2 separate regions of the Homo sapiens genome follow, and region 1 is linked to region 2. Evidence: fine-mapped expression QTL. A gene starts in region 2. The other region holds a variant in brackets. All regions are shown on one strand. Distances are from middle to middle.

What was found. PIP is the estimated chance that this variant, and not a neighbour inherited with it, causes the effect.
Region 1: its variant is fine-mapped to the expression of NABP1 in whole blood (INTERVAL, PIP above 0.99).

Annotation. Positions count from the first base shown.
Region 1 is chr2:191,707,175-191,712,557 of GRCh38, reverse strand. LOC124908062 (a long non-coding RNA gene) reads right to left here. Exons shown (of 6, transcript XR_007088698.1): 2 at 3,630-3,746; 3 at 2,775-2,824. Among named protein-coding and RNA genes, the nearest start is that of NABP1, 32 kb to the right of the region's middle. The variant G/A (reference allele first, on the strand shown) is at 2,924.
Region 2 is chr2:191,675,001-191,680,362 of GRCh38, reverse strand. It overlaps NABP1 (nucleic acid binding protein 1), which reads right to left and starts at 2,227. Exons shown (of 6, transcript NM_001031716.5): 1 at 1,658-2,227; 2 at 1,235-1,373. The coding sequence starts at 1,748. RefSeq lists enhancers at 1-1,056, 1,884-2,386, 2,596-2,675, 4,269-4,378 and silencers at 1,526-1,585, 2,186-2,535, 4,326-4,620.

The sequences.
Region 1 (5,383 bases), 32 kb before region 2:
TCACTTCCTATCTACTCCAGAGCCTCCTTCACTAGTTCCCACTTCTCCCGATCCTAAGTGACTTTTCAGTCTTCAGATCTCTAGTCTCCATCTTATCTTTTCCCCCAGCAAGTCCCAACCCATTCTGATTACTCAAAACACACTCAATTAATATTTACATATTGAGCAGCTCCTGTGTGGCATGCTACCATCTCCCTCCATGTTACTCAAGCCCATCCTCAGTTGGTGTCCTGAACTTTAGATGCATGTCCGTAACACAAGTGCCGGACATGTACTTGCTGATGGCCTACCATCACCTCCATCAAAGCACAGTACAACATTTGTGCTTTCTTGCAAGTCAAAACAGCCTAAACACAGATGACAATTATTGACTCAAGCCCAGATATAGAGTAGATTTCAGGATTCTGGCTTCTTTTCTATCTCCCTCAGCTCTGCTGTCTTCCATGGGTTGCTTTAATTCTCAGGCAGGCTTTTTCATGGTAAGATAATTGTTGCTGTAGTTCCAGGACTCAAATGTGCATCTCAGATGATGGAAGAGAGCCTCTCTTCCACAGCCACCGAACAGAAGCTAAGGGTTTTATTCTGACTGATAAATTGGGGCCAGTGTCTACCCCAATTTGCAGATGTATGATCCCTGTGATCAGAGAAATGCTATGAGCTGTTGGTGTACGGCATGGCTACAGGCTCATTCCTGGACTAGTTACTCTGGCAGGCAGATGTGATTATCATGAGTAGCTTAGGCCAAGTACAGCCTATGTCTGGAGCCAGAGGTGTGGTCAGTCCCACCAAGAGCATGGCTTCTAAATAGCAGAAGAATGGTGGAATGGATACTGGGAAGAAACCAGTAGTTTTAACTATAGGATCTTGTTTATTTGTAACCCAGTGAAAAGGAATAATTCTCTGTAGCTAGGTTTTCTAGACAGCTAAGGGTTCACTTCTTATGTTTTTTAACCAGTTTGAACAATATAGTTGAAAAGTGTATTTTTTTGTATTTCTGACTTTTAAAAGATATATACCAAAATTAATTTAACCATTTAATGACAATTTGAGGTCATCAAGATATAAATGTATTATTACATCAGTCACAATGCAGTGACTGACCTCAGGATTACTGAGCTGTGTGTGACCCCAGAGCACTCTTCACTTTAAAAAATTATATCTACTTTTTATGACTTTTCTTTTTCTTCTCTTTCTCTAAATTGCTACTTCTAATCTACAGTGGTATTGAGAACCAGATAATAAAGCTTTTAAAATTTCATATAAATTTAAAGTAGAAATGAAATTGCCTAGGAAGAAATAGGCAAAAGTGCAAACTATGCAGGCAAAGTGCATATTGCCTCTGCATAGGGACATTAACAGTTTTTGTTTGTTTGTTTGGTTTCTCTTTTTTTTCCTATAGCGATTAAGAATAACTTTATGATTTTACACACACACACACACACACACACACACACACAAATGAGTGAATGAAGTAAATAGGATTTGTGTGGTGCCTTCAAGTTCCCCAAGTGGAAAAATGTTCTAGCTGTTAATCCTTGCAGTCTGTGACAACCCTCCTAGCAAATTAGAGGCCTTGTTGTTGAATGCGTGGTTGCCTGGTATGTTTGGCGTTAGAGAGCAGAAGTGGTCATGGAAAAGCCAGAACATATCAGGAGGAAGGTCAGTCACCTATCTACCATGCGGGCTTAGCAGGGAGCCCTTGACCTGGTAGGTCACCCCCAGGCAGAGACTGGACTACAGTCTTATAAAGAGGGAAATTCAGTCTTGCCTGCACCCCAGGGTTGGATAAATGGTGAGGGTGATGACTCAACACTGTGGAAACTCAGAAGTGACAATTTAATAACAAACAATGTAAAGGGATCTGCTACTCACAAGGAATTTTTCTTCTGCCCTAGAAACTAGATGAGGAACCAAAGTATAATTAGAAGGTAGATTTGGTTAGGATAAAATTAGAACAAATGATGAAGTGGCATAAGGTTAAAATAGACTGGTGCATCCATCCATCAACACACTGGGCCACATCTGGCAATCACACCAGACCTAAGCAGCATGCCACTAAATGGTGCTCTTGTTGAACTGCCAAATTTTGTCTCCATGACTCACCATTTTCTTTATTTCACTACCAAACAATTCCTAAAGAAGCCATTTTTTCTTTACATATGTTAAGACAATGCCAGGCTATGGATAAAGGTCGTTGTTCTTTAAGTTACTTTTCATACTTCTCTTTATAGCTATAGCAGTTTCTGAGTTCCAGGGTAACCTCATGGTTACATCCCACTCTACATACCACATTCAGCTTCTAGGAGAGCTGACAGCCAAACAGAAAAGGGCTCAAATACGTATAAAACTAAACTCATTATCTTCTCCGCAAGCTCCTCCACTGAACAAAAGCAGTTTCCCAAACTCACTTTTTAAAACATCACTGTATGCTCATCTTTCACTTTTCTCTCTCCGTTGGTGCCCCATATTCTTGTGGAGGCCAAGTCTTCTTATTTATTCCTCCTTCTCCATGTCTCTCCCATCCATCATTTTCTTTTCACTCCCATTGCCCTACTTCTTTATCTCATTCTGAAATATTGCAATGGCCCAATAACAGGCATCTGTCTCTTCCCTTTTATGCTCATCTGCATATTATTGCCCTATTAATCCTCTAGAAGCGTCCTTATTCAAAACTTTTAACAACTCTCCATTTTGCAAAGAATCACATGCAAATGCCTTGTACTGGTGCTCAAAGCCCTGCCATATTTGGTTTTCATGTTATGTTTTGGCTTTACCTTCTGTGACCCCTCCACATGGGTGCTCTGTATCAGCCTTTGTATAATCACTATGGACAAATGAAAAAATCAAATATAAGCAATGTTTATGTTTTGCAATGCAAACCTACAGGAAAGAAGTCTTTGAAATTAGTACCAATAGATGCAGT[G/A]TGCAGATTTTCATTTTAACAGCCCATTCGGATTTTTTCTTTCTTTCTTTCTTTCTTTGACAGAGTCTCCCTCTGTCACCCAGGATGGAGTGCAGTGGCGCGATCTCGGCTCACTGCAAGCTCCACCTCCTGGGTTCACGCCATTCTTCTGCCTCAGCCTCCCGAGTAGCTGGGACTACAGGCGCCCGCCACCATGCCCGGCTAATTTTTTTGTATTTTTTTTAGTACAGATGTGGTTTTGCCGTGTTAGCCAGGATGGTCTGGATCTCCTGACCTCATGATCCACCCACCTCGGCCTCCCAAAGTGCTGGGATTACAGGCTTGAGCCACCGCACCCGACCCAGACTTCTTTTTTAATTTTCTGCATTGACTTTTATAGACACGTACAGACATTTATAGAACCATGGTTGGTTATCAGGTAATCTATGGCTTCAGTCATGGTTTAGAAAGAAACCTGAAACTGTCCAGTGTAGATCTTCATCCAATGACAGACAGGCATCACATAACTCACATTAACTTGAGTCTACCATCATTCAGAAATATCATGGAAGGTAAATCACTCTGACAGTTGACTTGGTAGAAACCCTGCTTATTCCTCACACAGGGTGTGTCCTTGAGGAGCATAATATGATTGGGCAGATCTGGCCACCTTTCAAAAAGGACCCAACACAAAAAGTGATTTGAGCAATAAAGGAAATATACTGACTCGTTTAACTCAGAAGTCCAGGCATGGCTGTTTACAAATGTTCAAACATGGTCTTGGGAAGCTCCTCTGTATCTTAGCTCTTCATTTCTCTATGCTTTATTCCCCAGAAGAATTTTTCTGTATGGGAGCAAAGATGGTCAACAAGATTAGCATCTCCTAAGGATGCTAAGGATGTAAAAGGATGAGGACAGTTTCCTAATCAGTCAGTAAACATCCTACAGTGGGTTCTCATTGGCCCAGCTCAAGTCACATGCCTATTACTGAGCCAATCACTGTGTCCAGGAGCGGAGTCGGGTATGATATTTTTATTACCCAGGACCACCTCATATACTTTTGCTCCCTTCTGAAGCCAGAGGATGGGATCAACCCCATTGAACTACATGGACTGAGAATGGGAGCAAGGTGTTTCTCCAAAGGAAAACCAAGGTGCTGTTATAAGAAGAAGACAGAACAGAGAAAACAAACAAGTGAATAGTAGGAGCAGCTTCTTGCATTTGTGGACATGCCTATTACCTCTTACTATAATATGTTCATTAATGAGACCCACAACTTTATATTCAAAATTTAAAATAAACTTTGGCAATATGCATCAATATTTTTACATACACTTAAGCCAGCAATCCTATTTCTAGAAATAATAATAATAGCTATGCTAATTAAGTGCTTCATTATGTGGCCAACACTGGCCTAAGCAATTTGCATAGGTTATTTCAATTAATACAGAACAACCCTAACATGCAAGTGATATTGTCTCCGTTTTTAAGCTCAAGAAATTGAGCTTAGAGAGGGTAAGTGATTTACTCAAGGTTGCACAGCTAATAAGAGGCAAAGCCAAAATTCAGCCTCCAAAGTCTTAACGACTATTAGTTGCTTTTTTCAGAAGTCTCAGTGGCAATACACTCTCATTGATTTTATTCTAAGAAAAAATACTATAGGTGAGAAAATATGTACATCCCAGGATGTTATTTATAAGTATTTGGTCACAAAACTCAAATGTGAAATAAAGTATCAATAAATTATGTCAACCTACATATGTCCCCTCATTATCAGTAAATACATACAAAGTTCCTACTTTATAAAATGATAAAAAATTAATGACTTTCTTTGTAAGGCTGTGAATTTGCAAGTTTGTTCAAACCAGCTGCCTAAGCTACAAAAGCACCCACAGTCAAGGTTAATCAAACACAATACGGCCTTGTGCATTGTTTCAAATCTAACACAATGTTAGCTTATTATTTAGGAAAAAATTGAATACTTAATCTGTACAATCACTCAAAATGAATCTGTATATGTATTACTGTCTTCTATCAGGCCAAAGGGAGCTTTAGGCTAAAGTAGTTAATCTTGGTGATGCTCAACACTGGAATATTCCATCAAATGGGAACGTGATTGGCTTGAGAGACCAGAAAGCTGATGATTTTAACCACTGCACCTAACATGACAAGTTTCGATTAACAGTTGGAAACCTACACTCTGCCGTAGTCCCCAACTCAGGGCAAAAGACAGATGAAGCAGGACAGCAGCAGCTCTGAAGCTAATAAGGAGCTTAGACCACTAGGAAGGTCAGCTGGAAAAATAGCCATACTGCTCTATACTTCTGACACTGCCTAGGCTGGGTGTGGGGAAAGGGAAGCTCAAAGTGTGTATGTCACTAATTCATTATTGCCACTTTTTCAAAAAGATGGATATTAATGTAAACAAGGTGAAGTTCTTACTGGACTTCAGATTTTTTTCTTTTTTTTTTCCCTTTTAAC
Region 2 (5,362 bases):
GTAAGCCTGCAAGGTAACACCAAGGAGCTCTAAGCTCCTACTCTCAGTGCTTTCCAATACTTCTAAGATTCTACTTATTAGGCCAACATCAATCTCCACCACTTTCCCTGCAGTTAATGATAAATTATTACAATTTTATTGATCTCAAAAGCTTCCAAATTCTGTTTTTAAGATCCTTTTCTGCCCTTTTATCTTCCTAAGATAAAAATTTGGTAAATTTCTAAAAGCAATCTATTTTTTAAAAAAAAAGTTCTAGTATTTTTTAAAGCCACCTATCCGCCAACTGACTCTTTTGGATGAAGGTATTGTAGATGCCTTTCTGCCAAACATTTTCTGTGTATCCCTTTGGTTTTTGCGCAACATCCACCTTACAGCAGAAGACACAAGAAATCATTTTGGAGAATGAGCCTTCCAGATACTGTAAAGTTTCCCTCTTTTTCCAAGTACAAATTTGACATATCACAGAATATGCTAAATCCTTTACCTATAATTTTCATTTATGTCCACATTTCTAAATAACATATGTAAAATACTGGCCAGGATTTCAAGTCATTAAAAATGGAGAAGGGGTGGGAAACAACTGAGTGGCAACTACACTAGAGAAAACAACTTATAAAAAAGAAAAAATATGGACTATACCAGTCTCCTAAAAAGACTCACTGACTCAGAATAGAACTAAAAATCTATGCCGGGCGTGGTGGCTCACGCCTGTAATCCCAGCACTTTGGGAGGTTGGGGCGCGCGGATCACTTGAGGTCAGGAGTTGGAGACCAGCCTGGGCAACACTCTGAAACCCCGTCTCTGCTAAAAATACAAAACTTAGCTGGGCGTGGTGGCACACGCCTGTAGTCCCAGCTACTTGGGAGGCTGAGGCACGAGAATCTCTTGAACCCGCGAGGCGGAGGCTGCAGTGAGGAGAGATCACGCCACTGCACTCCAGCTTGGCGACAGAGCGAGACTCGGTCCCAAAAAATAATAATAATTAAAAATCTACTTAACCTGTAAACCGGGGTAGAGGCGCGGATTTCCCAGCTGAAACCGACTGCCTTTCACTGCAAAGGTCTGTTACATCCCAGCGCTGCCCACCACCCAAAGTTAACACCAAAGGAGTTCAAAACTCCTCAAGAGTGGCCCACAGAAAAGGCGGGGGACTTCAGGGCTTGCCAAGATCCCAGGAGCCGGCCAATCCCGATTCTGCAGACTGTTAGGTCCCCCGACTTTTTTGCACACCTACCCTCTGGTCAACCGAATAATATCCCCTGGCTGTATAAGACCTCCGATCTCATCCCACACGGAAATAGTGATGCTGCCCGTTTTATCTGCTACTTTGCACGATCTCACTTCATGGCCGTCTTTGGTTTTGGTCACGCGTCCTGTGAGGATTTAAAAATCAAAGGGAGGGGTTGTTAGATAATGAGGACATCCAGAAAGGCTAACTCCTCCTCCGGTATTTTAATACATCTGGAAGGTGGGAAGTGACCAAGCCCAGGGCTCCCGCCTCAGGTAGGATCCGATCTCGGGCGGAGGCCACTAGAGCCACGTGGGTGGGGGAGGGGAGGGAGGAGGAGGGGAGCCCCGGGCGCGCAGCGGCCGGCGCCCCTGTCTCCCGCCCCGGGAGGCACAGCGGGCGGTGGAGTAGGCTGCAAACCCCACTTACCTATCTCCAGGACAATAAAGACGACATTTAAGTTTTTCAGTCCGGGCTTAATATCTCTTATAAAAATAAGTGGGTCGTTGACCCTATTCATATTGGGACAGGCGCGGCTACGGCTGCGGAGACGCGAGTGGGCAGGGCGGGGTCAAAGCTTCCCACCCTCCCGGGACAGGGGCGAAGGCAGAGGGGCGACCTTGGGCAGGGGTGGCGAGAGAAGGGGCAGAAAGCCGTTAGTCAGGGACCGGGCAAACCAGCCCGGACAGCACTGAGCCTAAAAAAAGAAAAAAAAAAAAAAAAAAAAAAAAGGCTCACAAGTTCTAAAGAAAAAAAGGCGAACCACTCCGCACACCAACCCCGCTCCCAACCGGGCGACAGGAAGGCAAGCGTACTAACTGCCCCGTTCTTTGGATAAAAGGAAAAAAAAACGCAGTGAGGGGACACTTCTGCCCTGAGTCCCGCTCACTCACACGGGCGCGCGCCCAGCCTGTCCCGGGCTCCGGGAAGGAACGGGCTGTGACAGCGAAACGGGAGCGGAGACAGAACACCGCACACCCAGCGTCCCAAACAGCGACTGATGAACACGCCCGCGCGCCGGCAGGACCCTCGGCCCGCCCCTCCCCTTGTGAAGTCACGCTGCGTCGGCACGCCTGCTGCCACGCCCGCCTGGTGCTGGGGAGGGGAAGCAAAGGGGCGGGACCCGGCCGCCGCAGCCCGCAGAGCTTCCCTCGCTCCTCCCCGGGGGCTGTCAGCGCGGGCTCCGCCCCCTCGTCCTTCCAATCGCTCTCGGCCCCGCCTCCCCCGCCCTCCCGTTCTCCACCCACTTCAGCTGTCGCCGCGCAGCAGCAGTTCTGTTCGGTTTCGCCTTCCTGCTGTGCAGTCTTTTGACGCTTGCTGTCCAACTTTGGAGTTTTCTTGCCTTTTTTTCTCTCAGAGTTGAGCCCCTGCCCGGGCCCTTTAGTCCCTCGGTCACGAGGAACGGTAGAGTTTAGAACCTGTGAGTACGTTAGAAAGTTCGCAGTCGAGGAAGAACAGGGTTCGGGCAAGGGCAGCTGGTCCGGTACCAAGGGAAAACAGGCTGGGATGGTGAAGGCGTCAGTGGCTACAAGGCTGGAAGTTTAGCACCAGAAGGGAATTTGGAGATCAATTCAACCGCCTCATTTCAGGCATACTTAAATTGAAACCCAGAAAGATGAGGTAATTTGCAGAAGGTCACCCAGCAACCCCTGAGCAGGCAGGACTGCAACACAAATGTCTGACGTGGGCTTCCACTGTGTAATGCTAAGCAGATAGGACGTAAATTCCTTTGCAGACTTCTCATTTTTCCTTACCCCCTGCCTCTCATATTACACACCTTCCCCATTTAGCTTTTCTTCTTTTACTTTGCACTTGCTTTTGTACATCTAAAAGGAATTAATTATTCAACAGCAGTGGGAACCCTTGAAACATAATCTGGAAAAAAAGATTAATAAAGTTTTTTTTATGTCGCGTAGTGAAAAGAGCATGTGCTTTAGAGACAAACCTGGGCTCCAGCTATTTACTTGTGAGAGCTTTAGGTCAATTGGCTTTTATTACAGCTTTTTAACCATAATAAAATGGGGATCCCTGCCTAGCAGAAGATTGATTAAATGGATCATAAATTGTCCAACTAGTGCCTAGCAAATAGTACATACTCAGTATTTTCCCCTTTTTAATCCCCGTTTTACAGGCGATGGAACTCACCAGAGACCAGATAGCTAGAGAATGGCTGAGCTGGGTTTTAAATCTAGTCAATCTTGACCCCAGAGCTCTCCAGCCTAAAGGTAATGTTTAGACTTAACTTCCAGTGGTGTCATTATAAGAGTCAAAAACAGACTGAAGAAATAAAATAGCAGAATAAAGTAGTGGGGCATTAAAGAATCATCTAGTTAATTCTTGGTGATGATAACAGAAATGTTGGGAAAAGTGTCAGAAGCCTTAATTTTCTCCCCATTCTTTCTGAGTATCTTTAGATCAACCACCACTTCCCAAGTATTTGCAAACAAGCAGCATAGATATTATAGCCCTAGAAAGAGTTGGAAACATTATCACAACATTAGCAAGAGAGTCAAGGCATTTTTAAGGAAACAGAAGCTTCCATTTCATGAACTAATAAAGCCCAAGGTGCCAAAGACACTGATGTCATACTGGAAAGTGGTGTAAAATAAAATTATAAGCATAATTTCAACATCAAATAAAACAAATGATGAAACATGCCAGTTAATGGCAGAGCCAGCGTCCAACCTCAATCCCAATCCAGCTCAGAAGCTCTAATTCTACCATGGTTATCTGGCAGGACTTGACACTTCAATTGGATTGTACTCAAAGCTGTATTTTCTTAAACAGGCAAAATATTCTCACAGAAGCAATATTTAAGGCAGAGCTCTTTTTTTTTTTTTTTAAGGTTTGACAAGATCTTCAAAAGATTAAGAATAGACAGGAAACCAATTAAGAATGTTAAGAGTTACGGCCAAGAGTTTGGGCAAAGAAAGTTTGCCACTCAACTCTCAATCATTTGCCCCCAGAAAAGGGATTAGGTTGGGCTGTTCAGGCTAATTATATGAACATTTTATAAAAAGAAATCAGACACAGAAAATCAAGCCCCACAAAAGCAGAAGCTGGTACTCCAAGCTGTGGCTCAGCCCTTCCCTTCCCCCACAGGACAGAACTCAGCTGAACATCTACTTCCTTCCCTACTAACTCAGCAGTTCTCAGAAAGGAAATGGCAACCATATGCTTTCTCATTAACCAAAACGAAAGGCAGCCTTGAGAAACAAGATGGTCTGGGCAATACAGAAACTGTTCAGCCCAGGCTAGTTGGTTTCAGCTACCTCTAAATCACTCCCAAAGATGTGGTTAATAAAAAGAAAAAGGAGATGTCAAGGAGACAATTATTGCTAGGCAGATATCTTTTCTTATATTACCATTCAGTGAAATAGATCTGCCACTCAGTCTACTCATTTAGGTCATAATGATTATATTGCTGATTCTTTAATACATACACAAGATTACTTCATGGTCTTCTTTTCTCTAAGGCTGTTGTTCTTCAAGCCTTCATTTTTCACAGCCTAAACATAAGCTTACTCTGAGATGATGGACTCTTCCACTTTACATCCAGAACCTCAACACCATGTTTTAGTGTAAAGATGCTTAGTGAGATCCACTGTAATACAGAAGGGCATCCATTAGAATCCTGGACATAGAAGGTTCTGTTATCTGGGTCCTCATTGATAAAGGTTTTGTTGTAAATTTTACCCAGCACTCAGTACCCATGCTCACTCCCAGGTTTTGGTTTCTGGAATTACCAAAATTATTTTCACTTTGTTTTCACTATCCATCTATTTAAAACTATTACAACATCAATGAAACAGTTGTTTGTACCAAGTACTGTTTGATTTTAAATATCTTGTATAGTGAAACTTAACAATTTAAAAAATTAACAAGAACCACAGTGTGCTCACTCACCTTACAGGTATAATCCACTTTGTAACATAATTGGCAACTAAAAAAACAAAAAAAAAAAACTCAAACAAATAGTATTTTCTTAATTTCCCTAAAACAATTTAACCAAAAGACTCAGAAGTAATGTTTAGTAATGATTGCAGCAACAGCCACACAAATCATCCCTATAGTGATAAATGCAAATACACTGAGCACTTGCTATGGGCCAGGCATTTTACACTTATAAGCACT